Homo sapiens: one gene and its partners. The protein of the gene in region 1 purifies or fractionates together with the protein of each later gene. This does not show direct contact. Each region holds a gene or a part of one and is shown on either strand. Other genes may lie near its edges.

Evidence for each region.
Region 2: the proteins of PTH1R (region 1) and PCNX3 purify together in Homo sapiens (affinity purification with mass spectrometry; 2 studies listed by BioGRID and IntAct, with this or other methods). This does not show direct contact.
Region 3: the proteins of PTH1R (region 1) and ALG10 purify together in Homo sapiens (affinity purification with mass spectrometry; 2 studies listed by BioGRID and IntAct, with this or other methods). This does not show direct contact.
Region 4: the proteins of PTH1R (region 1) and ATP12A purify together in Homo sapiens (affinity purification with mass spectrometry; 2 studies listed by BioGRID and IntAct, with this or other methods). This does not show direct contact.

What each region holds. Positions count from the first base shown.
Region 1 is NC_000003.12:46,873,315-46,880,803, reverse strand, and holds the start of PTH1R (parathyroid hormone/parathyroid hormone-related peptide receptor precursor), read right to left. Parts: upstream 3,084-7,489; 5' UTR 2,961-3,083; intron 1-2,960.
Region 2 is NC_000011.10:65,625,425-65,632,973, reverse strand, and holds part of PCNX3 (pecanex-like protein 3), read right to left. Parts: coding exon 7,464-7,549; intron 7,348-7,463; coding exon of another isoform or gene 7,323-7,347; coding exon 7,230-7,322; intron 7,071-7,229; coding exon 6,920-7,070; intron 6,300-6,919; coding exon of another isoform or gene 6,274-6,299; exon of another isoform or gene 6,077-6,273; intron 6,071-6,076; coding exon 5,926-6,070; intron 5,570-5,925; coding exon 5,392-5,569; intron 4,380-5,391; coding exon 4,271-4,379; intron 4,156-4,270; coding exon 4,026-4,155; intron 3,618-4,025; coding exon 3,559-3,617; intron 3,455-3,558; coding exon 3,239-3,454; intron 2,624-3,238; coding exon 2,370-2,623; intron 1-2,369.
Region 3 is NC_000012.12:34,017,344-34,025,621, forward strand, and holds the start of ALG10 (dol-P-Glc:Glc(2)Man(9)GlcNAc(2)-PP-Dol alpha-1,2-glucosyltransferase), read left to right. Parts: upstream 1-5,152; 5' UTR 5,153-5,256; coding exon 5,257-5,427; intron 5,428-5,433; exon of another isoform or gene 5,434-5,555; intron 5,556-6,618; coding exon 6,619-6,816; intron 6,817-8,278. UniProt on the Homo sapiens protein: Dol-P-Glc:Glc(2)Man(9)GlcNAc(2)-PP-Dol alpha-1,2-glucosyltransferase that operates in the biosynthetic pathway of dolichol-linked oligosaccharides, the glycan precursors employed in protein asparagine (N)-glycosylation.
Region 4 is NC_000013.11:24,683,204-24,690,752, reverse strand, and holds part of ATP12A (potassium-transporting ATPase alpha chain 2), read right to left. Parts: intron 5,440-7,549; coding exon 5,380-5,439; intron 2,435-5,379; coding exon 2,231-2,434; intron 1,492-2,230; coding exon 1,378-1,491; intron 416-1,377; coding exon 281-415; intron 150-280; coding exon 32-149; intron 1-31. UniProt on the Homo sapiens protein: The catalytic subunit of a H(+)/K(+) ATPase and/or Na(+)/K(+) ATPase pump which transports K(+) ions in exchange for Na(+) and/or H(+) ions across the apical membrane of epithelial cells.

The DNA of each region.
Region 1 (7,489 bases):
CCAGGTGCATTCCCCATGTATTTCTTCTGCTGCTACTTTCTTCTTCTTTCTTCTCCTTCTCCTTCTTCTTCTTCTTCAAGACAAAGTCTCACTTTGTCACCCAGGCTGGAGTCCAGTGGCATGATCTCTGCTCACTGCAACCTCCGCTTCCCAGGCTCAAGTGATTCTCCCAAGTAGCTGGGACTACAGGTGTGTACCACCAACCTGGCTAATTTTTGCATTTCTTGGTAGAGACGGGGTTTCACCATGTTGACCAGGCTGGTCACGAACCCCTGACCTCAAGTGATCCACCTGCCTCAGCCTCCCAAAGTGCTGGGATTACAGGTATGAACCACCAGCCTTGGCCCTCCCCATGCATTTCTATGGCTGCCTCCCTTCTCTGTGCCCACTGCCCTCATTTCTTTTTCTGGTGTTCAAGGGCTGTGCTATTTGAGACAGTTTCCTCCAAAAATGACTCTCCCTAACAGGAACTGTCTGCTAGACTCCTGGTCTTCTTCACACATCCACTCTCCTGCCTTTGTCCTTGCTGCTTCCTCTGCCAGGATCATACTCTTCTGCCTGGTGTAAAGGACACTCCCCTCCCTCCTTGTGTGCCCACATCCTCCGTTACTGGGGAGGGAGGTTGTGATTTCAGGGCTGCCTCCTATGGTATGTAGCCTCCTTGGGACGGAGGCCCAGGTGCCAGAATGGGCACCTAAAGAACACTTGTGGTTCTTCAGTGTTATATTTTAATGGTCTCAGCTTTATTATGCCTCTGTTTCTTTTCTTTTTTGAGACAGGGCTGTTGGCCAGGCTGGAGTGCAGTGGTGCGATCTCGGCTGACTGCAACCTCCACCTCCCGGGTTCAAGCAATTCTCTGGCCTCAGCCTCCTGAGTAGCTGGCATTATAGTTGTGCACCACCACGCCTGGCTAATTTTTGCATTTGTAGTGGAGATGGGGTTTCTCCATGTTGGCCAGGCTGGTTTCAAACTCCTGGCCTCAAGTGATCCTGTCTCGGCCTCCCAAAGTGTTGAGATTACAAGCGTGAGCCACCACACGCAGCATTTTTTTTTTCCCCAGACAGGGTCTTGCTGTGTCACCCAGGCTGGAGTGCAGTGGCACGGTCATGGCTCACAGCAGCCTTGACCTCCTGGGCTCAAGCAATCCTCTCACCTCAGCCTCTCATGTAGCTGGCACCACAGGCATGAGCTACCACACCTGGGTAATTAAAAAATTTTTTTTTTGTAGAGACGAGGTCTCACTTTGTTGCCTAGACTGGTCTCCAACTCTTGGGCTCAAGCAGTCCTCCTGCCTCGGCCTCCCAAAGTGCTGGGATTACAGGCATGAACCACCGCACCTGGCCTATGCCTCTGTTTCTAAGTGTCTCTAAGTTTTATGGTTCTGTGACCACTGATCTTCCACCCTGCTTTCCCCCTTGGTGATGAGAAAAGAACATTAATGGAGGGATTGGAAGGACTGAGAGATAAAACTAGAGGCTGAGGGGAGGAGTTCTTTTCAGATCTGACACCAGGGAAAACTTGAGATTTGGAAACATACTACTTGTACTTGGGAGGATGAGGGTGGGCTGTGGAGAGGGCTGCAGAGAGGAATCTGATGGGTGCTGGGTCCCTTAAGGGCATTCCTCCTGCCATAACTCATGTGCCTCACCCCAGAGTCCCCTGCTGGACATTCCACAGCTGTGGGTGGGGCCACAGATCATCTCTCTCACCCTCGGGCCTCTGGTTAAAGTGCTACCATGAGGGTGGGGGTGTCACACATTAACTGGTAGCACCCAAGCACCTGGCAGAGTCAGCTTGCCCTTTTTGACAAGCACGCCCCAGGGGCTCAGAGTCAGTTTCTGGTTAGTGTCAGGTCAGTGTTAGTTTCAATGGGGTTTGAAAAGGCCTGGCTGGGGGTGGGGAGTAGGAGTGAGTCCCTGTCTCTAATCCCCAGGCTGGGGCCTAGGAGGAGGAGCCAGGGTGGTCACTGGATCTCAGAACTGCAGTAGGGGCCAGACTCTGGCCCCACCCCTGCTGGTGTGGCAGCCCCAGGCTGACAGGCCTCTGCTGCAGCCATCCCACCGTGAGTAGGGCTCTGGCCAAGGTACACAGACCCTGGGGCCAGGGTGGGCATCAGACACCAACAAGCAAGGCAAGAGGCTCAGCTGTCTGAGCAATGCAGCCTGGCCTTCCTCCCTCAGAAAACCCCTTGGCCAGACCAGGGGTTCTCTGGGACTAATGGCTCACATCTATTTCTGAGTCCTTATATTTCCCCAGTGCTTCATCCCAACACTAGCCCCAAAGTCAGGCTGCATCCAAGCTTAGCCCTGATCCCAGACTGAGCTCTATCTCCATCATGAGCCCCAGCCTCAGGCTGAGTTCTTATCCCAGTCTGATTTCTAGCCCCTGGCTGAACTCTGACCCCAGGTTGTGCCTCCACCCAGCCCTCAACCCCAGACCTCTCTCGGCTTCTAGGCCCCTCTGGAAACTTTTTGAGGCAAGAGCCCAGTAGGGGAGGGGATGGCTAGGCCATAAGTGAAGCGAGGTGCCACTTTTACAGCCATTTCGGCTGCTCATAAACACCCCCTGACACCCAGCTGAGTCGCTGGAGGCTCCCATGGCAGCTGGCTGGGTAGCCCCCTTCCCTTGCAGCAGAAGCATGGCTGCCTGGCTTTCTTGCCTCTCAGGAAGGTGAAGGGAGGGGCGATGGGGGCACCTGGGGCCAGCAGGCTCTGTCCCAACCAGGGAGCACTCCTAAGGCTCCCAAGGAGCTAGAGGTATGGGCTTTCTGTCCCTGCTGGCCTCATGGTTACAAGCCCCCTGCTGTCATAACACCAGGTCCACAGATGTGTCTCCATGCGGGCATGTCTTGTCTGCCCCATAGCACGGCCCAGGTATTTAGACACTCACCCCCAGGGAAACCACAGACTTGGGCTTCCCAGCTGTGCTCAGGCCCCTAGGCTCCCCTGGCCCCCACTCACCTGCAGCCCATGGGCCTTCCAAGTCGGGCCTAAAGCTGCAGAGCAGACTCAAGTTGGCCACGGGGAGGCCATGGATAGTCCCTGAGCAGCTTCTGTGGCTCAGGCCTAAGCAAGGATAGTGCTGCTGGGGACAAGAAAAGACCTGAGTCAGAGCTTCCACTTGAAAAGAAAATTAATTATTTTTTACCAAGCCCTACACTGGCCCAGGACTTTGTCCCAGGCTCCTAGTCAGGAGTAGGAGGCAACAGAGGCAGATCCAAGTGTGCCGGTGTTCAGATGCCCAGGGCTGGGCCCTCCCCTCAGCACCCATGGGTCTGCCTGCCAGGTAACTGGGCCCACTCAGGCTGCCAGACACGTGTGTGTGCCTCAATAGTCCTCTCCTTGCCCTGCCATGCCTCTCTCTTAGTCTCTGTGTCCCTGTCTAACCCTCTGGTCCTTTCCACATCTCAGGAATATCAGGCTGCCACGAGGTATGAACACAGCCCCTACTAGTGACTTCACTCAAGTTTAAGGCACCCAGAGAAATCAGAGGGGGGCTGGAGGTGGTTCTTGCCTGTGTCACAGGCAGGAAAACTGAGGCCCAAGAAAGCCTGATCTGCCAGCACTGGGTACCCAGTGGCTCCTAGACGGAAGAGATGGAGGGGGCCGTCATTCCACTCCAGCCCGTGTCCTGACCCCTACAGCCCCACAGCCACCTCATATCTGACTCCTTGCCCACTGGAATGTGGGCTCCTGGTGAGGAGTCAGCCAGGAAGCCCTCCCTATCTGCCTCCCAGGCCCTTCCAGGCCCAGGGTCTGCTTAAGCTGTCACAGGTCTCAAAGGCAGGGGGCTGTGGACAGGATGACTTCTCTCTGTGGGTCTGTAGAACGAGCTGTGTTCAGAACCAGGGCTGGTTGCTCAGGATGAAGATGTGGGCAGACAGGGAGGCAGAGACCCTGCAAGATCCCAGAAACCTCACCCCCAGGCCCTGTGACCCGGCTGGAGGCTGCCCTTCTGCCTGAGCCCAGTCTGAGCTGGTTTGTGTCTGGAAGTCCTAGGCTCAGCCTGATGAGGTATAATGATTCACGTGGCAGCTGCCACTCAGCACATTCCAGCTGTAGCCCCCAGTGCCCTGCATGTGAGGCAGCTGGCCCCAACCACCCCCAGCCATTGGGCACATTCCTAGGGCCCCCCTCCCTGGGTCTTCCAGGCTCCTGGGGAGGGTACCACTCATTAGAGTTTCCAAAGTACTTTTTGTTTCACAAGTTAGTCAGGGAGGCAGGCTCGGTGATACCTGGCCTCCAGGTGGAGGAAACGGGACCAAAGAGCAGAATGGACTGGCCAGGGGACATAGTGAAACTATGACAAACAGCACTTATGGGACTCCTGCCCCAGCTACTCTGAAGTGCACTGCTCCAAGGGGTATCCTGGGACACGTAGGCTATTCTGTGACCAGGCCAGCGGAGGTCAGTGGGCAGTTGTGCCCAAAGGAGGGAGAGTTCCCCTGTGCTCTGTCAAGCCTCCCTGTTGCCCTGGCTCTTGACTGCCAGAGCCTCTACCTCCCCTGAGTCCACATGCACTGCCCTACCCTGCCCACAGGCCCCATCCTCACTGGCCAGGGAAGCAGGAGGCTGGGGCCTTTTCTGCTTTGACCTGTGGATCCCTGAGCCAGACGCCTTCCTGCTCATGGCCTCAGTTTCCTGATCTGTTGTTAACAGTTGGGCAGTTTCAGGCTCAAAGGGGATCTGTAAAGTGCCCAGGCACTTGGGTCTTGGATGCAAGCAGACCTGGGAGTCTGAAAACCTGAAGGCCTTTCTCTCCTCGAGCCTTGGGCCTGCCAGTTTGCGTTCCTCCTGTGGGCCCCAGCCCAGGGCTCTGGGGGGCAAGTCTGGCCCTCAGCTCCGGGGACAGGAAGTTGTATTTTGGTCCTGGGTTCTGGGGAAGAGGTAGGGGGAGAATGGCAGCTCAGACCCAGCCATGTTTACTCGGGCCCGGCCCCCTCCGAGCTCAACAGGCTCCCATTCATTGGGAGACCCATAAACCCTTTGGGGCTCCCTGAGGTTCAGAACGCCTGGATGCCAAGGCTGGATGCCGCCCCCAGACCTGCTGGGAGCTGTGGGCAGCAGGTGGGGCATGAGTGAGGCATAAGTGGGATGGTGGGTGGGAGCCTGAGACTCGCCTGAGTTTCCAGGTATTTGCAGCGTCGTAACAGTTCTTGCCCCATGCACATTGTGGAGCAGTTGGGAAATCCAGGGAGGTGGTGGAGGTTGAAGGGTTCCTTCCATGGCCACGAGGCCATCAAAACTGATTTCTCTTAGATCAGGCCCCAGAAGGGTGTCTCCTCAGACTAGGCTCCTGAGGGCATGTCCTCAAATTGCATGACCCTCAAGGCAAGGCTGAGACTGCTGTGTCCAAAGCGGAGCTGATGTCCTTGCTGAGGCTGCATACCTGGCCTTGGGTTGTTGACAGTCCACTCCCTGGCAGTGTGGGCATGGGCTTGCATCCCACTGGAGTAGGGCAAGTCTCTGGTCTGTTCCTCATCTGTTCAGCAGGAGGTCTTCACCGGAAGGGGAAGCACTGGGATTGGATGCTGAGGGATGGGGCCCTCAGGTCTGCATCCCTCAGTGTTGCGTGTTGTTACCTTTGTGCCCATCTCTGTGCTTTCTTTGGGTGAGTTAGAGCACCGTCCCGTGGTCCCTGGAAATGGAAGGGAGGCAGCAACAGTGTTCAATGGGAAGAACTGTGGCTTGGGGGTCCAAATCTTGTCCAGCTTTCCCATGACCTGGTAACAATTCTGTCCCCACTCAGGTCTTCAGTTCTCCCTGCCACAGACGGGTTAGAGTGGACTCTCTCCAAACCCACCCCCAGCCCTGCTGTTCCCAAGGGCAGCTCTGAGGGAGATCCCTGGTGGCATGGTGGCGGGGAGTGGGGTAGGAGAAAGGCCTCCCCACCAGATCCCCTTTCATCAGTGCCCCCACATGCCCGGGCAACCTGGCCAGCCACTGGGGACACTGGTTGGGGGTCCAAAGCGGGTCCTGTTTCCCAGACGCCTTCTGGGTAGAGTGTGATTTCCCGCTCCAGTGGTTGTAAAATCCCCAGAAGCCTAGTGCGTCCCTATTGTGTGTGTGGGGGGGGGTCTGTGCCTCGGAATACCCCCTCCCAGGCGTGTTTGACACGTGTTTCCGCCTCTCCCTGCATGGGCTCCCGCTGCTGCTATTTATAACCTTTAAGAGCTCCTGCCGACTGCAAAGTTTTCTTAAACTCAAAATATCACCGAGGTCCCGGGCACGCGTTCCAGAGGCCGGCTGGGCCCTGCGGTTTGAAGGGAGGAGGGGGCCAGGAAGGAGGAGGTGGTGGGGAGGGGGTTAGCTCAGACACTGGGTCCTTGCCGGGGGCTGTGGCCGGGAGCCCTCGAGTGGAGAACCCCTAGTCCTGACACTCCTGCCCTGTTAGGCCTGGAGGAACCCTCTATGTGGGTGGTCCTTTGTCGTGCCTTGCCAAATCTCTGGGCCTCAGTTTCCTCTCACTCTAAATGCCTCAGGGGACACTGGCTGGGGCAAGGCAATGAGCTGGCGGACACTGGGAATGTCTCTAGGGCTGGAATCAGGGTTGTGTCTGCCTGGCCATCCTGCAGGCTGCACCAAGCCTGGCCCAGAGGCACCGTGGACATTGGCTGAACTGGCTGGAGAGGGGAAGCACTCAGGGAAGTTTATAAAACCGTGTATGGGAAAGCGACATCCAGAGAAGGGCAATGGCATGCCAGAGGTCACCCCGCTCATCCAGAGCAAGTCTCCAGGCCTTCCGACACCCGTGCCCTCTGAGGTGAGCCTCTTTGGAAGAGGCCGAAGGGCTCTCACTGGGCACAGGTGGGTCGCCAGTGTGGAGGAGGTTCTGGGCTTAACGGGAGGTGGCTAGGCATAACTCAGATGCCTCCCTGAAGCTGGAGGGGACACTGGCAGCTGGTCTGGCCCAGTGAGGTCAGGCCTCTGCCCAAAGTCACACACCCAGCTCCTGCCTGCCCTGACCTCTGCTCTATCTCTGGGGCCTCTCTGCCTCCCGGACTAGTCATGATCTTTTTGGGGAGGTCAGTGGTCTAGGCTTCCCCCAGTCCCACTGCACTCCTTTCCTGAGCTGGTGTGGGGGCTGTGGAGGCAAGGGACTGGAGCACTGAACTCAGGGCCATCCAGTACATCCTGTCCTCACAGCAGCACCCTCTCTCAGCACAGCTGGCTCTGGAAGCCACTCTTGGCCCAACGAGCAGAGCTGGGTTCAAGATGGAAGGGTGACCACCCCCGCCCTTAAACTCAGCGGCCCCACATCAATTTTTCCAATCAAGCGTAACCACACAGGGCTCCTTGGGGGTGGAGGGGGGCAAGGAAGTGATGACCTCGCAAACAGAGGAGGAGGAAGAAGAGGAGGAGGAGGAACAATGTGTTCTGCAAGCTCAGCCCTGCCTTCCGTGGCCCCTGCCTGCACCTTACTGTGTGTTGGGCTCAGCTGGGAGATGCAGAGACTCAAGAGTTTGGGGGAGCCAACTCCCTGCCTGGCC
Region 2 (7,549 bases), on another chromosome or scaffold:
CAGGAGTTCAAGACCAGCCTGGACAACATGGCGAAACCCCATCTCTACAAAAAATACAAAAATTAGCCAGGCATGGTGGTGCATGCCTGTAGTCCCAGCTACCTGGGAGGCTGAGGTAGGAGGATTACTTGAACCTGGGAGGTGGACACTGCAGTGAACCCAGATGGCACCACTGCACTCCAGCCTGGGTGACAGAATGAGACCTTGTTTCAAAAAAAAATAAAAAAAAGAAAAGCTTCAGGGACCGGGAGAGGAGCTGGCCTGGCACATATCAGGTGCTTGGTTAACCTTCACCAGTGCCATCCTTTTCTCTGACACAACACTCACGGTCATCTTAGGAAGAAAATGAAGACGGGGGGCAATACCAGCAGCCGCTCCGCCTGTGAGCGCTCACTGCGAGCTGGGCTCTGCCCAAGGTACTTCCCGGGAAGCACTGCCCAGACTCCGTGCAGCCTCAAGCCACGGTGCCTTTTCCTGCTCTTGTAGCCCTTCCCAGCTGCAGAAGCAGGTCTGAGAGCCCAGTAACTCCCACGGGAAGGGCAAAGCTAACGGGAGGGGCTCCGCCTCGACTGGCCAACCTCGAAGGCTGGAAAGGACCTATCCCTGCAGCTGGGACACTTCCCCAGATGCACCAGGCTCCCCAGCACACCCGCCTCCCCCCGCCCCACCCCTGGCAGCCCTGACTTGTCCTTCCAAGCTTCACCCTCAGTCCACATCCTCAGCGGAGCCACCCCAGGTCCTCCAAGCACTTCCTCCAGACTCAAATTCTGCCCAGCCTTTGAGGCAGCCTTAGATGTGGCCAGTCAGCTTCCCCATGGGACAAGAGACCTGGCCAGGTGCATCTCAACCTGCTGGCCCTAGCCTAGCAGGCACAGCAGGGCAACCTGGGCAAGGGCACCTCTCTCAAGATGGGACCGGAAGGTGGACCAGGCCATGACCTCTCGGTGACCTGGGACTGGGAATGTCCCTCTCTAGACACAGCCTCCTTCTTGATGAAAGGGGGGTGGTCTCACAAATCCTTGCCTAGGAGTGGCTGGGAGGGCAGAAGGAATGACAAATGACAGCTCCTCTGATATGTGGTGTGGACAGGATTTCCTTTGGAGAAGGACAGCCAGGGCCTCGTGAAACTACTCCAGAGAGAACCTAGGTGGCAGGCTCACCTGGGCCCCAGTAGGCCACCCACCGAGCCCAACATAGGGAGCACCAGGGTAGATCCTAAGAAGGCACGTGGGAGCCTGCACTGTGATCAGCAGGCCACCCCACTCCCAGTACGCTTATTCTGAGCACCACAAGCCTCAAAATTCCTTTTTTTTTTTTGAGACAGTCTTGCTCTGTTGCCCAGGCTGGAGTGCAGTAGCACGATCTCGGCTGGCTGCAACCTCTGCCTCCCAGGTTCAAGTGATTCTCCTGTCTCAGCGTCCCAAGTAGCTGGGACTACAGGTGCCCGCCATCACACCCGGCTAATTATTTTGTATTTTTAGTAGAGATGGGGTTTCGCCACATTGGCCAGGCTAGTCTCAAACTCTTGACCTCAAGTGATCCACCTGCCTTGGCCTCCCAAAGTGCTGGGATTACAGGCATGAGCCACCACGCTTGGCCAAGCCTCAACATTTCTGCCATCTCAGAGAACTGCAATAACCCCCACTTCTCAAGGGGTAAGCTGAGGGACACAGGGAAGAAACATTCCAGGCTGATCAGAACCCCCATTCCAGGGCTCCTTATGTACCCCACATTGCCTCACCAACCCCCTCCCACCCCCAAGAGGTCTCAAGATCCTCAGGCCTGGCTCAGAGCCCCCAGGCTAAGGCAGGAAAGCTCTGTGGCTCAGGGCCAGCCTGGGTTCAAGGCCTGGCTTGGCCATTTTCTTCAGATTCTGGAACCTCTGCAAGCCAACTTCCACATCTGTGAGATAGCAGGGCCCCTCTCAAAGGGTGGGGGACTCCACCCAGCTCAGGAGAGATGCCCAGCATAGCGCCCACCCGTGGTAAATGTTACTGCTCAAGCAGCTGCTCCCATGATGATCGTTAACGTGACAACTGTTAGCTCTACCACTGCTCTGTGCTGGGTGAGCTGGGGGCAGGGGCTGGTGGTTTCAAAGGCTGGCCTCTGCAACTGCCCACCTGCCCCATACTCACTGCCCAAAGCAAGCCTTCCTTGCCTGGGCACCTATCAGAGCCATATGGGCACAGAGGCCCCTGCAACCTGAGGTCTGGCAGTGGCACCTCAGGGGACACTTAAACTCTCTGAGGCCTCAGCTTCCCTTGGACAAAACAGGCTCCCAACAACCCAGAAAGGGGGTACTGGGGCCTCTGGTCAGCGAGCGCTCACCCGCAAGGGCCCTGCTGCCCGGCCACACCTGCCCACCGTACCTTGACATAGTAGGTGATGAGGATCTTGCGGAGGTCGAAAACCTGCAGCATGGAGGCAGCATTATTGTCACTAATGCTATAGCCCTCCAGCACGTACTTGCTGGCTGTTACCTCCCAAGCCAGCCAGCGCTGCCCAAAGGCAGCATTGAAGGACAGGACCCGTGGCAGGTGGCCAGGTTCACAGCAGCAACAGCCCTCGTCCTCCTCCACACCCTCGGTGATAGCCTCCACCTCGCGCTGCTGGCAGTAAGTGCCTGTGGAGGAGGGGTGTGCAGTCAGGGGCTGCTAGAACAATCCCTACCTGCCCTGTCCTGGGAGAGTGACCAACATGGCATCAGAGGCCTGCTGCCATTCACCCCCTTGGACGCCAGGGGAGTCAACCTTATTGGATGCCAAGATTCACGAAAGAGCGCCTGCCTTTCTCCTCCCAACTCCCAGCATCCAAGGGCAGGGCGGGAGGGAGCAGGGACACGGTCTGGCCCCTCTGCACTCTCGGGCATCCAACACACACGTCTTCCTGAGAGGAAGGAGCTGGCTCACTCATGGCGCCCAACCCATGGGCCAAGCCTGAGACCACAGAGCAGGCTGGGTGTGAGAACTCAGACCTCCAGGCCCAGGCCCTCACTGCAGTGACCTGTAGAGTCACTGGGACCTAAAGTTGGGGCAGGCACAGGGCTTGGCCAAGAGACCCTGCCACCTCATTGCTCAGACTGGGAAACGCAGGCCCAGGGAGGAGGAGTGCCTTGCCCAAGGCCACCCGCCAGCCTGGACAGAGCTGGACTGGACCTCCTTCGCACGTGCTATTGAACACAGCTCCCACATCAGGCCCGAGCTGTGCCTGCCCACCCGAGCCTGGTCCTGCGGCTCACCCCGGAACTCAAGGCCACGCAGCTGGAAGGTGACGAGGCCATTGCCAACCTCGATGAGGTGCACCAGGGCGTTGAGGTAGTCAGAGGCCAGGACGAAGCAGTCACCAGGGCCATAGTTGCCCCAGCGGCCCAGCACCAGGTCCCCACACAGTGTGTGCTGCAGCGAACGTGTCAAGTGCTCATAGAAGATGGAGTTGAGGTTGTTGTCATCAGCGCCTAAGACCCAGAACAGACGGGCAAATGGACAAAGTGACAAGTTAGCGAGGCTCCCTCCCCAGGGAGGCCCTGCCCTAAAGCCCCTTGGATGGCTGGGTACACACCAGGGTTCCTGTCCAGCTGTGTGACCAGGCGGGTGTTGGAATGATCCACACGTTTAGTGCTGTTCAGAGAGAGTGCAACAAGGCGGTTGGCCAAGAAGGTGAAGAGAGGGTGCACCCTGCTCATGCTCTCCCTGTGCCACAAGGTCAACGCCATCCAGGACAGCCCCGTTATGCAGGCAGATGAGGAGACTGAGGCTCAGGTACATGAAGGGACTCACACAGGACACACAGCCAAGAAGCTGGGAGGCTAAGCTCATCCCCAGACCCCACTATCCCCAAGCTGTGAGCCTGAAGCCTTGGCCTGGTGCAGGCTCTCCCTGCATTGGATCTGCCGCCTCATGTGTCCCCACTGTGACCAAGCCCTCCCATACCTGCTGTGGGCCCCTCTGTGGGTGGCCTCCAGCCTGGGCTCCAAACCTCTCCCTTCCTGCCCTGCTGGGCATGCTCCCGCCTCCTGTGAGACTCACTTGTAGTCGCGCTCCCAGAACTTGAGGGGCCGAGCGTAGGACATGATGAAGACGGCACTGCCTAGCAGTGGGTTGAGAGGCGTGGAGAAGAGCCCCGAGAGCAGGGCCTGGACGAACAGCATGGCCGAGTCTGAGCCACAGTCAAGGAGGCGGCGGGCAACAGGACCTCCCAGCCCCCCACCACCCCCCACTGCCCCAGGCCACAGCCCTCCCTGCACACCCCCACCCAAACACAGGCTGGATACGTGGCACGGCAAACGGCTGGGCAAAAGCGTGGAAAGCCGAGCCCCAGGTGATCTGCCAGGGCGCGATGTAGGTCAGCACGAAACGCAGCTTGTACAGCAAGTCCCACAGCTGGCAGGGCCAACAGGGAGAAGAAAAAAGACATGCAGGGTCACTCATGGAAGCCCCCGGATGCCAGGCCCCATTCAGAGGCTTGGGTCATCGCACTGGCTTGGCCCACGGGGGCCAAACTCAAGGTCACTGCCAGCCCTTGTGCTCTGGACATGGCTCAAGGCGCCTGATGCCATTAGCAACCCCTGCCTGAGCTCAAAGGGGGCGGTGGCCATTTAGTTCACACAAGTACCCTGTGAGCTTCTTATTCCTATTGCTGGCCCCTTTTCACAGATGGGAAAGTTGAGGTTCAGTGAAGACAGAGAAGATAAATGACTTCCTCAGGTCACGCCACTAGGTCACTGGTGAGGCTGAAGCTAGACTATAGTACTGAAAATTGAGAACAGCCACAGGCCCTGCCCTCAGAGGGTACGCAGTGTGGATGACCGCCATCCTGGGCCAGGCCAGAAAACAAGAACAGAATGCCCACGTGAGGAAGAAAAAGGCTCAGGCCTGCCTGGGGTTCCAGGTACCACTGCTGGCCTCCAGTAGAGTGTAGGAGCATGGTTCCTTAGTTCAAAGAGCCCCCCAAGCCGTGGCAATGCCACAGCCGGCAGAGCACCTATACACACCCAGGCACTAGGGGCTTCTGAAACTCAGCTCGGACTGCTCTGGATCCAGGGTGGCAAAAGAGCGTGGAACTCAGAGGTCTGCGTCCAGAGGATAAGGCCAGGTCCTGATTACCCTAACCATTTCTGAGGAGGTGGTCGTGGGGTCAGACAGGCCTGGGTTCAAATCCTGGCTGACCACCAATTCTCTGGAAGCCTGAGGCAAGTCCCTCAACCTCCTTCAGCCTGCTTCCTCTCTGTAGAGGGTGGAAGTAACCCCTTCCTTGAGAGGCTGCTGCAAAGGCCCACGGGGCTGATACAGAGCGGTGGCCACAGGCCCTCAGGAAATTCTCTTCCCACCCAGGCAGAAGTTGGCTCTGCTCCCATTGGACAGCCTGGGGTCTGGGCCACAGCCACCAACTCACCTTGCTGCAAAGCAGGGACATGAGGAAGTAGTCAAGCAGAAAGCCCTGGGAGAGGCGCGGGTAGTCAAAGTGGAAGAGCAGGACGGTGAAGGCCAACGTCAGGTACTGCTGTGGGGGGCAGCAGAAGGCTGAGCGCAGCAGCTTCAGCCCAGCCACGGTCATCAGCAGCGCCCGGCAGCTGTGGGCAAGGGGCAGGCATCGGGTGCTTGGTAGGGGACCGGGGCAGTGGGTATAGGTGTCCCATCCCTCGCCTACTCTGGCCGGAGAGCAACCCCTGGCCTCTGCTCTGCTGGGCTGGTCCCTGCTCTTTTGGGCCCGTGACTCTTAGTCTCTGCTCTTCCAAAGGGAGTGGTGGGAACACATTTGCCTTTGAAGAAGCAACCACTTCCTGGGATGGCGTGTCAGGAGCTGGGGTCCTGCTTTAGCTTGCTAAACAACCTTAGACATGATTCATTCCCTCTCTAGGCCTCAGTTTCCCCACGGATCAAAAGGGAAAGCGGATGATGGGATCGTTGAGGGTGGGGTGGTCCTCACTAGAAGCAGTACTTGTCCGGGTGGCTGACGACTGTGTGGGCGTCCACCGTGAGGGCGTTGAGCACCACGGCGGGGTAGATGAGGTACTTCTCTACGCACTGCAGGCCAGCATACAGCTTCTCAAACCACATCACCTGGGCGGCACCTGTGTGGAGAGGCCAGGACTCTGCACCTGGCTTCCACATGCCTGCCTTCCCTGAGGAAGTCCTTCCCTAGGAGGGCAGGCTGTGCGGTCCTGACTCCTCGGAGACCCTGGGGGGAGGGGCTGATCTGTGGCAGCTCAAATGGGAGCAGCGAGCCCCAGCAGGGCAAGGGCTCCACATGGCACTTAGCACATCGAGGCTTGCTTTATGGCAGGTGCTCTGCTCTGCTGTCTGTTAAAACAAGGCCAATGATGAAATCGCAAACACCTACGTACAGCAGGCTGGCTAGGGCCTGAGTGCACAGTGAGCCCGTGAGCTGGGCCCTTCTAAAGGGCAGACCCCTCGGTTCAGGCTGGTTGTAGCCACAGAGGGATGCTAGTCTGGGAAGCAAAATCTTCTGTCGTTTAAGAAAAACTCAAGAAACATGGATCTTCATATCTCAAATCGAGATGCTAAAATAGAGGCTCCAGGATTTTTTAAAAACCATTATGCAGCCCAGTGAAGATGTGCTCCAGGCAGCTCTGGTCCACTGGTGATCAGTGTTTAATTCTGGACAAGAGATCCCTTCAGGGCCCTGGGGTTCTAATTCTTCCGTCTTCTCACAGACAGGAAGGAGGGCAGGACCAGGGCAACACAGGCAAGGGAAGGGCACAGCAGGGCACGAGGAGAAGAGTCGGTGGAGAGCGCAGCCGGGCAACACGGACACAGAGGGCAGGGAGGGAGCAGAAAGGGTAGTGTGGGCAGCGAGTGCCCCCTGCTGGCACTCCTGAGCCGAGAGGACCACAGCTCCCACCAGCCAGGCTGCAGCCCGAGCCACTGCCCAGGCCTGGCCATCAGGGGTGGGCACTCACCGCGCACTTCATACTGGCTGTACTCCAGCGGCTTCAGCACGGGCTGTGACAGGCAGAACCAGGGCAGCTGTTTGCGGAGTTGTGGCAGCAGGTAATGTGTGAAGAAGCCCACGGCCCCAGCCAGTGCGTACAACACGAAACCCAGCACCGACTGCAGGAGGGAGAGGCCAGAGACTCAGCTGATGGGAGCAGGCCAAGGGACCACAGAGGGCCACCTGGCACAGGCCGGGGAGGGGCTGCCCACGGCACTCAGATTGAGCAGGCTCCCGCCAAGACAGCGAGAGGCAGCAGCGGCCCATGCCACACAAACCTTCAGGGCAATAAAGACGGTGCTGGCGCTGATGGCGAAGGTGAGCACGGCGATCACCACACACATCACCAGGTCGGAGTGCAAGACCTCACGCTGCAGGGCCAGGAGAGACATTCAGCTGCCCGGCCAGGAGAGACACTCAGCTGCCCAGCAGCCCAAGCTGGACATGCCCCTCCCAGGAACCCCAGGACCTGTCACCACCTCCCCACAGACCCCCACCCCCCGCCCCCTCACCACCGACTGGCGCATCTTGTCCGGCAAGGGGTCCGGGGGCTCGGCCCGGGCTGTCTCCAAGCTGCGCTCCTCCAGCTCAGGGAACA
Region 3 (8,278 bases), on another chromosome or scaffold:
AAAATGAAGCAAAAACGAAAGGAAATCTAGAAAGAACAGGAACCACAGGAGAACAGAAACTACTGATTCAATGTTTCTGCTTTGTCTGGTGAAAATAAAATCTCTATGAGGGTTTCTGCATTTAAATTTAATTAATGAAAAGTCAGATGATCTCCATTCTCAATAAATTGAGAACATGCACATGTTTGAAGAGTAATATTCTGAATGTATGCCGAACTTATAGCCAGTGCAGGGTACCTAATGCTCATAAGGATGCCCACTTGTTTTACTCTGCTTCTAAAGCCAAAAGGGAATTAACCAGAAACCCTCCTCAATATTTCACAAAACCTCCCTCTTTTCAGTAATAACAATTGTATCATAAATCTCACTCTAACGTCTGAAATTTTAAAATTAGTAAGATCATATTACTGCGTCTCTTAAACTGTGAAATTATTTAAGAATTAAAGTTAATTCAATGTCTTCTCTTCTAACTTTTTACTTTGGTTGATTTAATAGTACTGTAATTTCATCAGTATAATAGCCCAGTTCATTTAATAATCAATTTATGATTCTCTTTCTTTTCCTAGAATGTTTCTTATCTAACTGGCAGCAATAGCTGTAGGACTATGGTGTTTCAGCTGCTTATTTTAGCAAAAAGCAAAGTTCCCCTTCACATAGTCTTTTGAAAGAAAAGACATCTGTCTGAATATAAATATATGTAACTAAAAGCCATTAAATTGTAAGTATTTAAGTTCCTCTTCTTCAGCTGCTGAGGAGGAACATCGTCTATATGTTCATTGGCAATGAACTTTGTTTCTTGGTAGGGTGAAGCCTGGAGATGAAGAATCAGAGAAGCCAGGGGACAAAGCAGCATGAGTGATCAGAAAAGCAAGGGAAATGTAGAGGACAGCAGTATTCTCAAACTTTCAGGTCCATCAGGTCCACTTGGTAATCTAAGGGAATCATAATTGATTACAAAATGAATGTTAAAACACGTATTACTTGGCTCCCTCTGCTATCAGATTTGTTTTCCGGTAGGTCTAAGGCAAGACTTGATTATTTGCACTTCTAACAGGTTCCCAGGTGATACTAATGCTGTGGTACTTTAGGAACCACTGTTATAAAAAAATATTTAGGAAGTTTTGCTTTGGGTTGTATGGTATATCTTTCTAAATGACCAAGTGTATTAGTCCTTTTTCACACTGCTATAAAGAACTGCTGAAGACTGGGTAATTTATAAAGGAAAGAGGTTTAACTGACTCACAGTTCAGCATGGCTGGGGAGGCCTAGGAAACTTACAATCATGGCGGAAGGCGAAGGGGAAGCAAGGCACCTTCTTTACAAGATGGCAGGAAGGAGAATGAATGCAGGAGGAACTATCAAACACTTACAATACCATCAGATGAGAACGCACTCAGTATCATGACAACAGCACCGGGGAAACTGCCCCAAGGATTCAATTACCTCCATCTGGTCTCTCTGTTGACACATGGGGATCATGGAGATTATGGGGATTATAATTCAAGGTGAGATTTTGGGTGGGGACATAGCCAAACCATATCACCAACCATTCTCTTTGTCTGATACTACAGAATTTACCTGGCCTGAGACTTTCAAGGGTAAAACTGGAAAGTCTGCCACAAACCAGAAAGATTTGTTCTATGAAAGTTATCAGAATCAAAATGGGGCCACTTGCATAAAAACCCTGAAAAATGGAGCTAAGGAAGACCAGAAAGGGAGGGTTTATATGCGTGTATGCCTGACAACAGGAACTACGACAAAAGACTGCACAAACCACAACTTTGCACAAAGGCCACCACAATCTCACAAAAAATTACTTCTGTGAGGACATTTGCCCAGCAACTGCCTGTCCAACCTCAAACTGGTGCCACCCTTTCTACCAGTCCTTGTAACCAAGGATAATTGTCTCAAAGCAATTTATGTAACCCTCTTCATTTTTCTTTTAAAATCCCTTGTCTTCTTTTACCTCCCTATGTTCATTGTATTCTAACTGTAATGCTCAATCCCAAATAAATATTATTGTTTTTTAGAAGGGTCTCTCCGTGTGTGTGTTACTTAGGTTTAACCAGTCCCCTATACAATGTCTTCAAGACATTTTCAGTAGAGCTAAAATACTTGCTAATGCTTTTGTACTAAAATGTGTGTGTTTTTTTTAATTGATTCATTAATTTTAAAATATAGATTTTAAATTGATATGTTAAGATTGACCTCAAGGGTATAGTTGCATTTTAGAGCTTATCATCTGTGATTTTTGGCCCAGGGTGCAGTACTCTGCTGTAGCTAGAACGAATTGTCACCTAGAAAGGAGTAAACCGTCACTCTGATTAGCAAGTGGCCAATGTTTTCATTCAGCAACAAGTGAAAAGGGGTGCAATAAGAGGCAGGGTGTTTCTTGGACTAATACTTCAAAGTTATTACAGTTACAGCCTTTGGGGAAATTCACTGTTCAGATATGGCTGTTTCAAACAGTTAAGTATATGCAATGTTATGCGAGTTCATCAAATTAGGAATGTCTTAATTGATCAAAGTAAGCTAGGTTATACAGGAGAAATAAAGTCAAAATCTTAATGGCTTATAAACAAAAAAGATTTATTTCTTGCTAAAACAACCTATCCTTAGAACCCCAACAGAAATTGCCCATTTTTCTGCCATAACTTACTTATCATAATTCAAGTAGCACAAATAAATAGTTGATGTGCAATGACAATGGGATTGCTCATCCTAATGACTCTTTTTCACAAACATCTATGGAAAATGGCAGTTGGAATTCTGAATGGAAAATGTAAGTTGAAATTAATGCTGATCTAGTTTTAAATGATAGGTCTAATAATATGTAATCTATTTCATTAAAACCCCAGAGGTAGCTATTTTAATAGGTCTTGATTTAGGAGCAGAGCTTTGGAAAGCATTTCAAGATTATCAAAGATGTTGTAATCTAAGAGTAGAAAAGTGACAACAGCTTCATCGATTTGCAGATAGTAAAAATAACTAACAAACGAGTGAAGTACTCTACAAAGAACTCTACTGGGCCCATGGAGCTTCTTAGCATTCTCAGGTAATATGTTTTACATCAATCGTTTCCAAATATGAAGATTATTATTCAGTGATTTGAGATGGCTCTCTACAATCTAGTTTTTCACAATGTTCCCCCAGCAGATTTTGATGTAATTAGTCTGTAACATGAACATTTTTTTAAAAGATGAAACTTGTATTTCAACTTGGTGTATGGAAACAGAGGAGAGTGGAATGTAAATGTAAAGTTATTGGGACTAGTGAAACATTCAGTTCAGTATACATTGTAGATTATTTTAACCTATAAGGCTATGAAGTTATTTTATTACTCTTGGTCTGATTTTCTAATTCCTACACTTGGTTCTGACACTAATTTTTTATGTAATTTTAGGTAAATCATTCATTTTTTTAAAACCAACTTCTTTTATAACATGAAGTCAAGTAGATTATTAATAAAGATCCCTACCCATTCTAGAACCCCATATTTCCTTGAAACTTTCCATTTTATGTAAAGGGATGTGTGCAGCATGTATAGGAGTCAAATGTTTAACATAAACTATTGGTGGCAATTGTTATGAAGAAAAATGGAGAGCATAAATGTCTAGTCTTGTTCTACTCCCTTTAAAAACGACCCACTATTTCTAGGGTGGGTCAGTAAGCTGCAGAGTATATATAACACGATTTAGCAGGTCAACAGGTCAGGAGCTAATTACTTGTAGATCACATCAACCTCTTGAAGACTGAATCATCTGGAGATGTGTTACAAGTGACTTAAACAGATAAGTACAGCATGGACTCAACAATAAAATGGGAGATAATGGTTAAAACAAAGCTAAGCATCACATCAGAGTAGGATCCTCACATGACTTTATTCCAGTAATGTAAATGTTCCCATCCCAGCCCTCATTCACCACTACTTCCTCTTATCATTGAGGAAACAGGCAGAGACAGAATGGAAAGGCAGTCAGCTTAATTTAAGAAACTTTCTTAAGTTTAGAAATACTGAATTAGTTTTAACCCAGAAAAAGAGCTCAATTGAGAACTCTGAGGTTTGCAACCTTAAATCCCGCCTAAATTCTGATATATTCCTGCCAAAGGCAACCTGATTGAGGTTACCTGAGAAATAGTTTTTCTACAAAACATGGCCAACCATGCTCAAGACAAAATTACAACACATAATTTATCTTCGGCATTCTTCAAATTATTTACCTCATCTCCTGCCCCCAGCACCTAATCCCAGAATACAGGAATTTGATGATGTCTACACAGCCTATAAAAGTCCACAAATTTAAGTGCCTACTGTGTGAAAGCCATTTTGGGGACTACAAACATAAAGGATGTATAATGCCACCCACTAAGATGTTCACGCTTATGATTTAGTAGGAAAAACAGAAGGCTGCCTTACAGATATTAACAACCAAATTTACAGGCACACCTAAAACATCCCGAATTCTAAAATATATATGTATTTTCCAAATCCTACAGGGTAATATGACTATGAAAGTGCACTAGGAATGTCAATTTAACTAAATCCTCTGAGAGCATCCACATTTTGAAAGAGTTCTCTTTTAACCTAAACAAACAAACGAACAAACACTCCTCTCACTGAAGTTCATTCGGCATTGACGGGTCTCTGGTTCTTCAAGTTTTCATCTAAAACTCTCAGTCTTTGCTATCACAACCAACGCACCCTTCCTACACTCCAAAGTTGATGGAATGAAATGTCTTGGAATTGAGGGTTTAATTAATTCGGATCACTGGAGAGAAATAACAGAAATAACGGGGGAAAAAATGTGTCCATTTTAGGGCTTGGAATTGGAAACGTGGGGAAACGTCGCCACCTTCTGGTAAGTGATGGAAGTGAGCAGGAAAAAAGATCCAAGCTAAGAAGCGGCTTTTTTTTTTTTTTTTTTTTTTTTTTTTTTCTAAGCAGCAAGCCACGCACCTCCCGCGCTGGCGAAATCCGAGACCCGCCCCTTCCGGAAGTTTTGACACTTTGTGCGCCCCGGGCAATGCGATTGAGAGGGTAATCATCCGGTCCGTTATCTAAACCCGTCACTCCGGGAAACAGCGACCCGATCTTTCCGGATCCGCGCTCTCCCAGCATCCTTTGCCTTCCGGTATGTGGCCCCGTCTGGCTAGTCCCGCCTAGCGCGCCCATTTCGAGCCCAAGTTTCCAGCTCGGGTTTCCAGGCTCAGAATTTTCCAGGAGTAGGTTCTTGGGCAGTGGCTGTGGGAGCTGGAATGGCGCAGCTGGAAGGTTACTATTTCTCGGCCGCCTTGAGCTGTACCTTTTTAGTATCCTGCCTCCTCTTCTCCGCCTTCAGCCGGGCGTTGCGAGAGCCCTACATGGACGAGATCTTCCACCTGCCTCAGGCGCAGCGCTACTGTGAGGGCCATTTCTCCCTTTCCCAGGTGGGGTCCCCAACCTGTCCCCACCCCAGGAGAGGCCTGAGAGGTCCCAGCGTCCCCACGTCCTCCCATCCTTAGACTTCACTCGTCCTGTTCCACCCCCTCAAGCCTCAGAACATGAAAGAAACTGGGTATAGTCTTTTGTTCCTGTCTCTGAGATCTGTGAAATATTTATTAAATGAATGAATAAACAGCAGATCTGTCCTCCAGGAAGGAGTGATCTGGGAGAATACTCAACGGGGAACTGAGCCCTCCTCTTGGCAGCTGACGATATCGATCCCACTTTGTCTTTCCTTGTTTTAGGATTAAAGGCATTCGGGTGCTCCTTGGAAATACCAGAAAACTTTCCTTTAGCTCACCTGTCAAGCACCTCACTGTGCATTTTAGGGGTGGGATAGGGTGGACTGGAGGGATCTTCAGCTACCAAAAAGTGACAATTTATAATCACAAATTCCTTCCCTGGGTATTTTTAGTGAACTGTTAACTGGATAAACTGGCAACCAGTCAAGTCACATCATTTTTGAGTATATATTTGACTGTGCAAGTATGTACATATAAATATCAAAATAAGCATCCCCTGCTTCTCTGGTGACACAATATAGGGTACTGGCTAGAAATATAAAGTCTGTTTTAGAGAAAGATCTGATCTTAAATCTTGGTGCTGTGATTTACTAGTTTTGTGATCTTGGAGATGTTCTGAGTTTCAGAAATTCAGGTTACTCATCTGCAAAATGACAATAATCTTTACTATAGGGCATATTGTAACGTTAATACAGAGGGTTTGGCAACAATTTCTGTCTCAGTTTATGTTAGCTGTCATCATGGAGCCTGTGGTCCAAATGTTTTCCTAAACTTAAGAGTCCCAAACAATGTTTCCATGCTTTTAAAAACTGGAACATTTGCAGTTTATTTATCAAAATAAAGGCTTTTAAAGAACATTTCTTGGAAAATAGAAATAGATTTTAAGTTGTTGTTGTTTATTGGTTGCTGCTACCTGAACCATCACTAAGCTGGTCCGGGGGCAAAAAATAAGAAAAACGAATCCTGTTCTGCCAAGGACTTACTTAATCTTGTCATAGAATAACTTCTCAAAATTTCTGATTGTTGCTGGAGATGAGACTTGGGCTTGACATATTTGTGCCTGTCTTGTTCCTATTACCTCTTGCTTTTACTTCATTTTCTTTCATTTTAAAGTGGGATCCCATGATTACTACATTACCTGGCTTGTACCTGGTGTCAATTGGAGTGATCAAACCTGCCATTTGGATCTTTGGATGGTCTGAACATGTTGTCTGCTCCATTGGGATGCTCAGATTTGTTAATCTTCTCTTCAGTGTTGGCAACTTCTATTTACTATATTTGCTTTTCTGCAAGGTACAACCCAGAAACAAGGTATGTTTCAAAATACTTAATTACAAGTTTATGTGTAGTCAGGTCCACAATTACAATGAATTAGTTTTATGAGATTTGGTGAAAAATGTCTTTAACACTTTGTAACTTTGTATTTTTGTATATTATGTAAAGGTAAATTTAAATCCTCCATCTCCATTTTAGAATAAATTCGTATTTAAATACTTGAATAACTTATTTGTAAAATCTGAAGTAAATATTTGTTAAGTGAGTCAAACCAGTTCAATAAATACTTACTGAACTTATTCCATGTGCTAGGGACTGGGACTACAGAGATAAATGAGGCAGTCTTTTTCTTGTAAAACGTATATATTCATTAGGGAAAACAGACTTTACCTGAGGACTTTTGATGTGATAACAGTGCAGGCCCTGGAGGTAGATTGCCTGGGTTAGAATTCTCTCCCTGCCACTTAACCAGTTTTGTTACCATGGACAGGTTAACCCTTAGTGGCTCCATGTCTTCATGTATTAAATAAGAATAACAATAGAATCTGCCTTATAGAACTGTTATAAAGGAACAAAGAAACTTAATAAATGGAAGATGCTTCGAACAGTGCCAGAGATATAGTAAGGGTTCAGTAAATATTAACTCTAATAATTATTTTTAACCTTAAGAGATGATTTCAGTAGTGTCAGTTATGATAGAGTGGTAAACATAAGATGCTATGAGGATACAGAGAAGGAGCAGGGGAACACTTACTGCTTTTCTGGGAGGGAGGGGAGTATGTGGCATTTGGTAAGTCCTCACAGAGAAGATGGTACCAGAGCTGAGTCTTGATGAACGGATAGGGCTGTGTAGGGTGGGGAATTAATCCTGGGGAGACAAACAACATAAGAAAAGGAAGAAAGGCATTGAACAACGAGTTGCAGGGAATTGGTCTTGGAATTACAGGATTAAAAAGTAGAGGGATGTAAGGCTAGAGAAGTAGGTCATGAATGCCCTTATGTGTCACAGAGAGGACTTTGAACTTTAGCATGTAATGTAAAGACCTTAATTTTAATCAAGGAAATGGCATGGTCTGATTTGGTGATTTAGATTAAGTGGAGTATACAATTCAAGAACATAAGAACACTTTCAAATTCTGAAACAGCATGTCAGAAAGGCCAAAAGAAGATATATAACTTTAGACAGGCTCACTTTTCAGAAAAATACCTGTTATTTCATCATGAAAATTTCATCTTGAAAAAGTAAGTCTGGGTATGGTAGTATACCATATGCATGTTTATATTCTCCCTTGTGTAGAGTTATGAAGGATTTCCTTAAAGGAAAGTGGTTCATTATGGCTAAGTGAATCCTTACTGAAGGCACTAAAACATAAGCTCAGGGAAATGGAGCCAGCACCGTGTCCTATTTATCTCCATAGTCCACATAGAACTTAGTTAGTATCTTGCACTCAATAACTCCTTAACTAATCATTGCCTGATTCCAATTGTGTTAAGCTAT
Region 4 (7,549 bases), on another chromosome or scaffold:
ACATGTGGGCTGAGAGCCAGAGGCCTTTTACCTTCCAGACACGTTGTGGAATAGAAGCAGATGTTCTTTGTTTCCAGGGGGTTTTCATGGGTAAACTCAGAGGAGCGGGGCTGGGGCTCAGACTCCCCCGTGAGAGATGAGTTATCCACCTAGAAGAAATGTTGAAGGTGGTTCACAGCTGGGTACCTCATTCCCTGCCTCTTATACTGATGCTGGGAAAGACCCCAGAGCCAGCAGGTTTGGAACATGGTCCTTGGGGTGGATACCCCTTGCCGCTTACCCGACACCCCTGAGAAGACAGCACCCTGATGTCTGCAGGGATCTGGTCTCCTCCTTTGACCTCCACAATGTCCCCCACCACCAGCTGCTCTGAAGGGATGGTCTTCTTCTCGGAATCTCGGATGACGAGAGCTTGCTGCAGAAAAAAACCATGACAGATGCCTCAGACCCTGGAAGGACACCGGCCCTCCCCCAAGTCTGTGCCGCACCGAACCCCAGGACAGAGGCCTTGGAACTTCCTGATCACTCTCACTGTTGAGTCCATGCTGTTATGCAGCCTGCACCTGGCCCTGTGGACACAGCATTGCTGCTGGAGCATGAGGCTGTCAGAACAGCAAGAATGAAACAGAAGACTGCTTCACCCGAGGCCTGAAGACTCTAAGAACTACTTTTTCTTGAGCTTATGGAGAGTTCTTGGAACAGAAGAGTCGCTGTTGGCCAGATCTGGCCAAGCCAGAGCCCTGGGCCTCCTAGAAAAGGAGACCACTAAGGGTGAGCAATCCTGGCTGGGCGTCTGGGCAGAACACTGAAGGTGGGGCTGGGGAGGCTGATAATCTTGCGAGTGTCAGGGAAATTTTAACGAGGTGATCTCCTGCTTCAAGCTTGGCAGGAGGCGTCTTTTCCACCCAGAATCTCTCCAGCCCACAGTTCTCTGGGCCAGAGACAGTGTGGACACCTGACAGGGGTTTTTGGGGAAGAAGGGAGCACTGGGCTTCCCCACCAAATGCATTCTGGGGCTCAGGAGCAAAAATGGTCACAGATAAACAATTGCAGGCTGGTCTCCTTGGCTGCCAGTGAAAGAACACTCCCTGACCTTCCACAGGTCCCTTCCAGAACCCAGAAGGACTATCCACAAACACTGAGGAGCAGGAACAGAAGATGCCTTGGGCTAACCAGCACTGCCCTGGGTGGTGCCTCATTTGACCATCAAAATCCTGTGAGGAACTGGGGTTCTGACAGATGGGTTAATTCGCCCACGATTGCTCCGACAGGGAAGGAAGTGGAAACCCGTAGCCCTCAGGGCCCTGTGCCCCTCCCAGCTGAGGCTTCCTCACCTGGGAGTCACCAGAGGCCAGAGGATAGGTGGCTGCCACTCACCTGAGGGATCATCTTATTGAAGCTGGACATGATGTTGGTGCTTTTTGCCTCTTGGTAATAAGCAAAGATCCCCGTTAAAATGACCACCAGACCAAGCACACAGCCCAAGTACACCTGGGTGAGAAGGAGGGCGTCAGTCAGAGAAACCAGCAGTGGGAAGCAGCCGGGCCCTGGGGCTAGAGCTCTCCACGGGAGGATGCAATGCTGGCAGTTACGCCCTGGTATAATTTACAGGCCATGGAATTCGCCCATGTTAAGTGCGCAACTTATTGATTTTTTTTTTTAAGTTTACAGAGCCATGACACCACCCTCCACCGCAGCCTCAGAGCATCTCCATCCTGCCTGGAGATCCCTCCGGCCCCTCTGCCGTCACTCCCTGCTCCTGTCCCATGCCCTGGCATCACCGATCTGGTTCCTGCTTCCAAGGATGTGCCTGTTCTGCACATTTCATGTCAATCCAATCCTATGACATGTAGCTTGTTGCCTCTGGCTTCTGTCTCTTGGCATCACGTTGGCCAATTCAGTTTTGTGGATTTGGTACTCATGTCTCGGCAGGCACAGCTGCTCTCCGTGTTAAAGGAAGAGGTTAGCTTGGGGGAGACAGAACCCCAAACTACTTCACATGGATGCAGATTTTCTCCCCCTTAAAAATTCAAGGTGTTTTGTGTATCCCTCTTCATGCCCACACTGCCTCTAGAAGATCAGAAAGCCAGATAGAATTTCTGTTTTACAGCTGGGAAAATGCCTGACTTTCCCACACCTAGGCAGTGGCATTCAGCCCCCAGCTGTGCCCCCAAGGCCTCACTGGATGGCTCTGCCAGCAAAACCAGGAGGGGACACCCCAGAGCCTTACGTTGTTCAGGGATGCAGACTTGTCGCTGGAGTACTGAATCCCATATGCAATCCAACAGAGAAAGGCGCCCACCCACAGGAGGATAGAGAACCCCCCCACCATCTGCTTGAGGAACTTGACGATCTCAGGCGTCTGCTTGGGAGGGGTGAGGGAGTTGGGCCCATCCCGGGCCAGGAGCTCGGCAGCTCTGGTGCTGGAGAGACCCTGGGAAAGCCAAACAAAGCACATGCACAACCAAAACAAATACGAATTAGACATTCCTCCTCCCTCAGGGGTTGGGCTGCATATTTTTGCAGCTTGGGGTGAGGCATTAACGTGGCCAAAGAAGGTCCCGAGAAAAGCAGACCGTGCCTCACTTCTCCAGCTGCCCAGCTTTTTTGAAAGACTATGTAATGCTTAATACCAGCCAGGCACTGTGCTCTGTATATTCACTCATTTAGTCTTTAAAATAACCCTTGAGGCAGGGGCCATTATTCCTCCCTCTCGTCATTCGCAGAGGTGGAATTTGAGGCACAGAGAAATTACGTAACCTGTCGAAGGGACCTGGCCTGTCAATGGTAGCGACCAGGTTCAACGTGGTGACTGGGTCCAGAGCCACTGCACTCTGCTCTGCTAAGGGGTTTTAGTTTCTTAGAGGTTTATCCGGTGAGAGGACTAATTTGATGAAGGAGGACTTGGAATGAAGAAGCTGCTCACCAGGGCTAAGGGCAATGCAGTAACTCCCCAGGAAATAGGGAAGCTTCTGGAATCCTGCACAGAGAGCATGTGGCTTTAGTTTCCATCCTTACGCCTGCTCCTTTTCCACCTTTCTACACATCCAGCCTAAGTTCTCATTCATCTTGACAGGCATAAATCCTACCCAAGCCCTGAGCCCATGTGAGCAGCCCCTGCCCTGGGGGGCCTGCCATCCGTGAGGCACCCTCACCTTTGAAACCCTACATGTTCACAGGAATTTCCCCCACAGACGATCTTTGGTGGACAAGTCTGTAGATACCTCTTCTCCCTAATTATGTTGTAAGCTACTTAAAGGGCAGGACTCTGTCTTGGTCTTTTTTTTTTGAGACAGAGTCTCGCTCTGTTGCCCAAGCTGGAGTGCACTGGTGCGATCTCGTCTCACTGCAACCTCCTCCTCCTGGGTTCAAGCGATTCTCCTGCCTCAGCCTCCCAAATAGCTGGGATTACAGGCAGCGGCCACCACACTTGGCTAATTTTTAAAATATTTTTAGTAGAGACAGGGTTTCACCACGTTGGCCAGGCTGGTTTCGAACTCCTGACCTCAAGTGATCTGCCCACCTTGGCCTCCCAAAGTGCTATGATTACAGACCTAAGCCACCATGACAGGCCAGTCTTGGTCATTTTTGTGTTCTCTCCCGGGTCTCATGCTTTTTCTGTGGTAGTGATTCAAATATCTGTTGAATGGCTAGATTCAGGCTCACCACCTCGATCCCATCTCCCTCCACTCCAATTCCTTTTCCAGAACCCCAGACTCATCTTTCTGAATAACTGTGGAACATTTCCTCAGGGGTGTTCCGGAGAGACTTCTCCTGGTATAACTCACAATAAGTTCATCATCGCCTCCACCCTCCTGCCTTCCCTGCTCTCACCTCCCTGCCCCCACCCCAGCCCATCACCCGACCGGCTCTCCTCCTCCTGCTGCTGTGACATGACTAGCGAGATGAGGGGCTCAATAAAAATCCCCGCAAGTCCTGCTGGTTGTGTCTCTCTGCAATTTCTTTCTTTCTTTCCTTCCTTCCTTCCTTCTTTCTTTCTTTCCTTCTTTTCTTTCGACAGAGTCTCGCTCTGTCGCCCAGGCTGGAGGGCAGTGGCGCGATCTCCGCTCACTGCAAGCTCCGCCTCCCAGGTTCACGCCATTCTCCTGCCTCAGCCTCCCGAGTAGCTGGGACTACAGGCGCCCGCCACCGTGCCCGACTAATTTTTGTATTTTTAGTAGAGACGGGGTTTCACCGTGTTAGCCAGGATGGTCTCGATCTCCTGACCTCGTGATCCGCCCGTCTTGGCCTCCTAAAGTGCTGGGATTACAGGCGTGAGCCACCACGCCCGGCCCTTTTTTTTTTTTTTTTTGAGATGGAGTTTTGCTCTTGTTGCCCAGGCTGGAGTGCAATGGCATGATCTTGGCTCACCGCAACCTCTGCCTCCTGGGTTTCAGAGATTCTCCTGCCTCAGCCTCCTGAGTAGCTGAGATTACAGGCATGTGCCACCACGCCCTGCCAATTGTTTGTATTTTTAGTAGAAACGGGGTTTCACTATGTTGGTCAGGCTGGTCTCAAACTCCCGACCTCAGGTGATCTGCCCACCTCAGTCTCCCAAAGTGCTGGGATTACAGGCCTGAGCCACCACGTCTGGCCCCTGTAATGTCTTTCGACATTATTTCAGATCCTCATTTCACAGTCCTGGGCTGTTGTTCCATTCTTCTAGACCCTTCCATTTCTCACTTTAAAAAAAGAATCTTCTATGAGAACTGCCTTTTGAAAACCAATGAAAGCACCTCCATGTGTGGAAACCATGTCCCTTCTGCCTCTAAGACAGCTCCTACTCATTAGTTTAATGTGAATACTTTGACAGCTTCACCCAGATGACCTTCCTGGCTTCATTCCTGCTGCACCTGTCCCCTCTCCACACATACTAGCTTCCGGCAAGCCCAGATTCTCTCCAAGCAGGCTCTGTGCTTACTGGCCCTGGGGTCCCCCACCAGCTTAAATCCGAAGCATTTTGAGTCCCAGCGCAAACATGGCAGCAGCCCGAGAGCTGGCTCTGGCCCCTTCCATCAGAATCCACCTTTGTCCCAGCATAGCGTTTCTACTTCTTGTAGCCATCCCAGGGGGATAGAGTGAATCTCAGGACACTTCCATACACATTTGCCTCCCCTACCCGGCCACTTTCTCCTTGAGGCCAGGGGTCATCTGTCCCTCTTGGTCCCTCTCACTGCCAGGCCAGTGTGAGCCCCACAGTAGGTTTTTCTGTTGACTTGAACTGTGTCCAGATGCAAATAACTGCAGTCTCAAAGGCGCTGCAGGGGCCCCTCCTCCTAAAGGTGCCGCTACTCTTCCACACAGCCCCCCGCCACACACAGCCTTCCCTCTGTAGAGTTGGGAGGCTTCTCTTCCAAATCCCTGGTTCCCACGACTCACCATAATGATGTCTGTGCCATATTTCTCTTCCAATTCCCTATTGCTGAGTTTGTGGTCATCCTGAAGTCCATGAAAGGAAGAACAGAGTGAATTAGATAATTCCAAAAGACTCAAGCCCCAAGCTTTGACCAGCCATGGAAGCTGGGAGTAGCAGCCCTGAGGATGGGAGGGGATCGAGGAGTGTGGGGGACAGGAGAGAAAGAACCCCTGTGCCAGGCAGCTGCCCAGCGAAGGATGGCACTGCCTCAGGAGTGACTGTCCCTGAGTCGGCACAATCCTGCACTTGCTGTTACTACCCAGAAGCTGCCTGCAGCTTTTCTGAACAAAGCCATGCACCTCGCTTCAATCTGAACTCCAGGGCATACAGGTTCTGGCACCCTCATCTTCCAGGTGCCAGTGAGCTGGAGGCTTCCCTCAGGCCTGAACCCTGGGATTGGCTGGGGCTGATGGCAAAACCACACTAGAACCGCTTCCTGGGCTGGCACAACTCCTCCTCCTTCGCTGTGTGGGCTCTGGCAGGGAAAAGCAGCTTCCCTCACTCAAGCTGTGACGCTCAGGGAGCTCACTGGGCAGAGAAACCCTGCAGGGAAAAGTTCTGCTGAATAAACCCACAGCATTGTGGCTGCCACTTGTGAATTCTGCTACAGAATCATTAGACTACAGCAGGGTTTCTCACCCGTGGCCCTGCTGCCATTCTGGGAGAATAATTCTTTGTTGTGGGCTCCACCCACTAACATCCTCCCCTCAGTTGTGGTAACCAAAAATGTTTCCATTTTTCCCCTGGGAGAGGGGTGGGGGAATCCTCTTCTCCTCTCCCTTTGAGAACCACTGGGCTAAAGGACAAGAAGTCTCTTCCTGTAGCAGAAAACCTAGGGTAAGTCTTCCTCACTCCCCCTAGAAAGTCCAGCACTCAGGATTTTTTAAACCCTGATTGTCTGAAACAAAGATTGATACTGTTGACTGGTGCTCACATCATCTCTTTTCTTAAGTATATGCAAAAAATAGTTCCATGTTGCAGTAAGAGACTAGGCCTTCCAATAAAGCAGAATTCATTATTATCATTATTATCTTGCTTCTAGCCCTCTTCTCAGCCAGATTCTGTTTTGCTCCTTCATCCCTTCTACTAATACTGATTGAGTGTGATATTGCTGGGGATTCAGAAGATTAAGGCTGTGTTCTGCACAGAGCACAGCACAACCCACTAAGTTTTGGGCAGATACAAGTAGTGGATGATCCGAGCCATTGTTTGCATGCATGGGACCTCAGACTTCCTGGGCTGGGGGATGAGAGCATGGGGGAGGGGTGGGACGAGGTGGTGGTGGTTATCTGGGGTGCCCTCTGCTGGCCAGCACTGGACTAGCACAGGGCAGCACCCCACCCACCCCTCGGGTCACTGCCTGGCCCTTTCATTCAAAGGCCGGGATACTTCAGTTGTCATTAGGCACTAATTTGCCAAGAAAGGTTGGGAGGCAAAAGCATTCAATATGCTGCTGAAAATTACAGGACCCTTGTAATGTCAAGGGAAAAACAGATATGTCTTCAATCTTAAATGCTAGAGATAATGGGAAATAATAAGAACGATCTATCGTCTGGTGCTGTGCTGTCTTTTCCCTGTTTTATCTCATTTAATCTTCCTAGTAACCCTTAAGAGGTAGAAAAAAAAATCTTATGTTTTTCAAAATAGGAAACTGAACTTCAGTTACACTGGGATTTGAATTGAGGTCAGTCCAGTTTCAGGGAAGCGTTCTTAAATGTCTCTCATGATAGATACGGACAAATGCCCAGTGGTATACTGTTAAATGTTTAACAAACTCTCCAGGAACGATCAATACAAAGCTCGGATTTGTAGAGTTTGCTGATTTCTCACTAGAACCAAGTTTGAAGCTGCTAACAGGATGTCAGTCAGCCTGCCAAGTTTCTGAATACTTAACAAATGGCTCTCTAGCACAAAAGAGACTCCCCTCAGGAGTCACAGAGCTTTAAGATCTGCCAAGGACGGTGGGGACAATCCAGCCCATCTCAAGCTCCGTGTAGAAGTTTCCCCTTCGGTGTTCCCAAGATAAAATCTGTCACATTTCAGACCCAAGGCAGTTTTATTATTAAAGTGGCCAGTTTGGGCTGGACACAGTGGCTCACGCCTGTAATCCCAGCACTTTGGGAAGCTGAGGCG